Linked DNA regions of Homo sapiens: region 1 is linked to region 2. A link means that fine-mapping ties the variant in region 2 to the plasma level of a protein whose gene starts in the linked region. Region 2 holds a variant in brackets. A gene starts in the other region. All regions are shown on their reverse strands.

Evidence for each region. PIP is the posterior inclusion probability: the model's chance that the variant is causal. The UK Biobank Pharma Proteomics Project read protein levels with antibody pairs (Olink). The fine-mapping took linkage between variants from a reference panel, not from the people measured, so its PIPs are less certain.
Region 1: TMEM106A starts here. The variant in region 2 is fine-mapped to the plasma level of the TMEM106A protein (UK Biobank, PIP 0.96).

The regions. Positions count from the first base shown.
Region 1 is chr17:43,210,680-43,213,589 of GRCh38, reverse strand. It overlaps TMEM106A (transmembrane protein 106A), which reads right to left and starts at 1,715. Exons shown (of 9, transcript NM_145041.4): 1 at 1,668-1,715; 2 at 1,196-1,363; 3 at 338-569. The coding sequence starts at 548. NBR1 (NBR1 autophagy cargo receptor) reads right to left here. Exons shown (of 21, transcript NM_005899.5): 21 at 1,902-2,910.
Region 2 is chr20:24,930,771-24,933,680 of GRCh38, reverse strand. It overlaps LINC02967 (long intergenic non-protein coding RNA 2967), which reads right to left. Exons shown (of 3, transcript XR_001754563.2): 2 at 2,907-2,910; 3 at 696-2,334. Among named protein-coding and RNA genes, the nearest start is that of LINC02967, 14 kb to the right of the region's middle. The variant A/G (reference allele first, on the strand shown) is at 1,684.

The DNA of each region.
Region 1 (2,910 bases), not on the chromosome of region 2:
TCACCAGCAAATCAGAGATGCCCAGCATCTTTGGAAAGTTCATTTGTAACTTCCTGAACTGAATGAATCCTAGGACACACAGTGTTGCTCAGAAGCACAGTGGCTAGAATCCTTCTTTCCCACAAGGGGCTGGAGAATACAACCAGGGAAGGAGGGCAGGTTTTTGCAGGGAACCCAAGGATAGTTAAGTATCTCCCTGGCCAGCCTGAGACTGGGAGGTCAAGAGCTGGGAGCAGATCTAACCCCATCCAAGGAGACTCAGAGGGGCTGCCCCAGGCCAACAGGCTAAGAACTTTCCCTGGATTCCAGGCTATTTCCAGAGCCTTGGGCCACTCACCTTGGGGAATCTTGCCACTGCCCTGGCAGGTGGGACAAGTCACGAAGCTGGCATCAGCAGTTCCTTCACAAGGCACACAGGAACAAAAAGACTTGCTGCTACCGGTGCTGGAGTAGTTGACAGCCTTGCTGCCAATGGCTGGTTTGGAGGACAGGATTGACTTGTTCTCATCCTCCCGCCAAGAGCCCAGCTGGGAAAACGTCTTACCCATTCTTCAGGGGCGGGGGTTTCACTAATGAGAAAAGACCAAAGTTCAGTGCTAAGCTTGTTAGCACTGACGCCAGATGTAATTTTGGTTTGAAGTTCTCAAGACTGGCAAGGAGCTTCACCACAGTTTAAGCAAGCTCAAGCCTAAGGAAGATAGGATGTGAAAAACTGGGTGGTCACATGGGACTCTCAGAAGTCTCAATGCATTTCGACTCCTTTCATTATTTTAAAAGAGACCAATCTGCCTACAAAAGGGAAAACAAAAGAAAAGCAGAAGTTACTTCACTTTAAGGAACTTCCATAAGTGATTGTCAGAGCATTTAATTTTTCTCTGGAAAAGTTGCTGAGCTGTCATTCAGTTTAAGGGAAGGAAGTTGGATAGGGCAGAAAAGAGATTCTTTGAATCAAGGAGAGAGGAGGCCAGACTGGTCACAGGTGTGGTTAAGACCCCTATCTAAAGAAGCCCTGGGAGAAAGCAGACACCTCACTGCTTTCTGAGGCGGGGTAAGAAAGCCTGAGGAGGGTCATAGTGATACCAGGGTCTGTCTTTCACTAGGAAAACTCAAGGCTAAATCTGGACTCTGTGTGACAGAACGAGGCCGGCAAGTGAGCCACACAGATCTTTCTGGGCTAAAATATAGGGATGCTCACCTTGTTCAGGTCTGGGATCCCAGGCTCCTCAGCCGCACGAGGGCGAGACTTCTGGAGTGCGTCTTTGGGGAGAAGGGCCTCTAAGGGCAGAGTGGGCTGGGCTGGGCTGAGCTGAGCTGGGCGGTGGTGGGGAGAAGCACCGCCTGGGGCCGGCAACCGGCCGGAGTCCTAGGGGAACGAATGTGCCGCACTGGAGAGTGGGGATAGTAAGGACGCTGACCTCCCCGAAGGGCCAAGCCGATTCCTGGGCTACATGGGGGCTCTGCCATGGGCCGACCGGGTGGAAGCGGACGGAGAAGGTGTGACTTCATTAAGGGAGGATTTCAAGTCCCACCACACACCCCTAGAGGCCGTTAGTCAAGCTTGGTACCCGTGCGGGGGGCGCCTGTGTGTTGGGCGAGGAGGCGGCAACAGGAGGTGTCTTGACCTCCGAAAGGTAAAGTAGGTATAAAGGGTCTAGGGAGGGCCTTACCCGCGGACGACTGCAGCGACAGAAACGGAAGAGAGTGGAATCGAAAATGCGGGAGCGAACACTCCCCTCAAGCTTTGACTCAGTGCCCAGGGAAGTCCCGCCCCAGCCCCTAAGGGCCCACCCCCCCGTCCCCCGGTCCGCCCCTTCGCCACGCAGCAGCCTGAGACGCTGCCAGCTCTTCAAACGTTACCCGAGGGCCCGGACGCTGCTTCCGCAAGGACTAGCCAGTCCGGGTAGGAATTTCCAAGAACATTTATTTCACCATTCTTTAGGTGGTTATGTACAAGTACATACATAACCAGGAGAGCAACCCGGGCCCTCCTGGCCCTCGATTATAAAACTCCGATGGTCAAGACAGGTCCCACCCATCAACCCAATTACACCCTGCCGCTCCACCTTCTACCCGGAAGCCCCGATTAAAACGTTTTAAATAATGAACGGCCTGGCTGGCTTGCAGTTTGAATCCTGGTTTATTTAAGTAGCATTCAGGAGTTATACTGTAAATAAACATCATTATGGCTAATGACTAATTAAAATCACCATTCATTACAAATACCAACCAGGTTAGATAATACTATTAACTATCTTTTCCCCTTCGGTCTGGGGTTCATATTCTTCCTTTTCTGGAAGTCATTTTCATGGATAAAATATTTAGCATTTTTTGTTACCTCTTCCTTCACCAACTGTACTCAACACACTTCTGTAAACAGAGTGAGAACCTGGGTTCATGGACAAGCTCTTTTCCACTTATCTTCGGGTTAAACCAAAACTTTTTCAGCAACTTTGCCCCTGTCCAAGTTTTGCAGAACACCAGCTGCCTCTTCCTGTTCTAGGCATTCTAGGGCTAGATACCTGTGAACGGACTTCAAGCATTAAAGAAGTCATCAGCATTTCCTATACCTCACACACACTCATTTGCCCACCCTGAACTTCACTGACATTAATTTAGGAGCCTGCCTTTTGCCTTTCACATGTTTCTATTTCCCCCACTGTACTGTAAAATAAGATCTGCCCTGACATTAAGAAAAAAGGCAACTGTTAAATTTACTTTTCCCTTTAAATAACGGGATTTTTTCCTTTTCTATAAGATTAGCAAAATATTTCACAATACCTATATTTTTTCCCTTAAATAAAAATGTATGCAAAATTACTATAATAGACATTGCTCAATAGGTGCTGGTAGGTTTATCAGCACACTCTTCCTCCTTTCATTGAAATGCGGAGATTCCCTTGAAGTTGGATA
Region 2 (2,910 bases):
GTGTGCTCAGTTCTGGGAAGGGGACCCTCTGTCCTTGCAGCTGGTGCTGACATCAGCATGGACCTCAGCATGCAGTCCTCACCACACCCAGCTGCAGGGCTGCAGGGACAGCAGGGTGTGGCCATCAGAGCCCCCACTGGGAGGGAGGTCGTGGTTGACCCAGAGTGCTGGGACTGGGCTCCCAGGAGAGGCTGGGAGGGCCGGGCTCCTGCAGGGAGGCATTTGTGCCATGTGGGTGTGGGTTGATGGAATCATGCAGTGCTCATGGTGGGGCTGTCCTGTCCCAGTGGCCCTGCCGTGCCACCCTGTGAGAAGGGCAGGGACCTGAGTTGACTTGTGGCCTCCAAAACTACAGCCTCCACCAAGGGCACCAGGGGGCCACAGGGTAACATAATATCATTAATTACAATGCTAGAAATAATAATGATGAGAGGAAGGTGTTTATAGTACTACGAGGCACCAGGCACCTCCTTAACACTGTATGACTTTCTTCCCTTTTCTCTTTAACAAAATTTATTTTAATTGACAAATACATATTGAACACATATGGTGTATAGCATGAAGTTTTGCAAGTATGTCTGTCTGCACTGTGGAATGGCTAAATCAAGCCAATGAACATCTACACTACCATACATCCTTATTGATGAAGAGAATGTAGCAGGATGAGCTGCAGACAAAACTCTTGAGACACTGGATTAAAGAAGGAAGAGGTTTTTATTTGGCCGGTAGCATTGGCAGACTCATGTCTTAAGAGCCAAGCTCCCCCAAAAAGAAATTCCTAGCCCTTTTAAGGGCTTACAACTCTAAGGGGTCCACGTGAAAGGGTCATGATAGATCAAGTAAGCATGAGGAATGTGACTGGAGGCTACATATATCAGCTAACAGAACAAAAAGTTTTACAGTGCTTTCTCATACAATGTCTGGAATTTACAGATAGTACCAGTAGTTTTTATCGGTAATAAGAAAAAGGATGGCTTAATAGTGCCAATAACACAACTGTCTGCCCATTCATTAGGTAACTGAATGTAGGCTCTCTGCCCACATATCCAGTATAGTCCAGCGAGAGCCATCCAGTCCTGATGAGATCCTGGACAAGCCCCCATTATATCAGGAGCTGGATCAGTGGGCACCAACTCTCAGGCTTCCCAAGGCCATCGGTCTCTGATAGTGGTTCCCCCGCATATATAACAAGAAGTAACATTAAGGGAATGAGCTACATTTTCTGCTAATTGGAGAAACAAATTTTTTATCTTTTTCAGAAGTTCTGGTGCTGGCAGATTTAACTCCTCATAAAAGGTTTGAAACACTGGTTTGGGAGAGTGCTTGTGGACCTCCCCTTGAACTAAAATGGCAACTTGGGGGTTTAACCCTGTCCCTTTGATCCCCAGGGTTACACATTCTCCCTTTTTCCAATGGGGATCTAGGGGATTGGTAATTATTAGTTCTAGTGGGTTACAGTGACTGGCAGCACAGGAGGGGTTGGCTTCCCCTTTCTGAAGATGAACCAAGTCCTTTTTGTTCTTTTTCCAAGTAGCCTAAATAACACATGGCCAAAAGGCACAATTTTCACAAACCCCTGACTCATGACAAACATATTTATTTTCTACTCTGTAGCTCCTTTCCCAGTTAAGAGAACCACATCCTGTTCCTAGCTTGTTACTATTAATGGCTGCACAAGCGTCA[A/G]ATCTTAAAGTTACTTGTTTGGGGATTCCTTTTTCTTCTGTTCTAGTTATTATTTCACTTGTATCACCTAGGAAAAGGCCAGTTCTTAATCTTATTTCAAAACTGGTGGTTGTAGGGGGCTCAGATGGGTTATAACACACATCAGGTCAGTCATTTCCTGGGCTACATACCTTGTACTGAGTGGCATTATACAAACAAGTCTCTTTTAACGTTCCCATACATTGATAATAACTATAGAACAGAAAGATTGTTTTCATTTGCTGTCCTACCTCACTGACCTGATGAATACACTGGGAATAGTCCCCAGTTTGAGTAAGAACAGTTGAAGCCCTTACTGTAAGTCCAAAATTTAAGAAAAATGAAGCCCACAATGAGCTTCCTCATGCTTCGGCTGTGCGTGGACCAGTCAGCTTCTGGGTGTGACTGGAGCAGGGCTTGTCATCTTCTTCAGGGTCACTCTGCAGGGGTTGTCCAGACTTGGTCTTGCCTCCCAGGATTCAGGCGCTGCAGGTTTTACACGGTTGTGATGGATCCAGGCTAGGATTCTCTCTACGTTCACAGCAGTGGGAGTGATCAGGACGACAGTCTGGGGTCCTTTCCACCATGGGCACAAAGAGGCTACGTTCCAGTCCTTGATCCACACTCGAACACCTGGGGAGAAAAGGTGAACTGGGGAGAATAAGCTAACAGGGTCTCTCATTTACCCAGGCTGAGATTGTTTGTGTAATTTTTCCTAAAGCCTGTAGCTGTCGCTGTAACTCAATTTCACCTAACTCTCAGGAAGTGCCTGGAAGTCCCTGCAATATGGGAAGGGTCCCATGATATAATATTTCCTAAGGGGAATATCCTGTTCTTTTAGAAGGGGTACATCTAATTTTAAATAATACTATAGAGAGCATGTATCCATTTTAATCCTGTTTCCTGACATACTTTCCCTAAACTATTTTTGATAGTCTGATTCATCTGCTCTGCCTTTCTGGAACTCTGAGGCCGGTAGGCGGCATGCAGTTTCCAAATGATCCCCAATACCTTTGCTATCTTCTGTACCAAGTCAGCCACAAACGTTAGCCCATTATCTGAGCTGATCCGTAAGGGCAGTCCAAATCTAGGAATAAGATCTCGAAGAAGCACACAGGTTACTTCACGAGCTTTCTCAGTTAGTGTTGGATAAGCCTCCACCCACCCACAGTAGGTACACAAAAGAACTAGTAAATACTTGTTACCTCC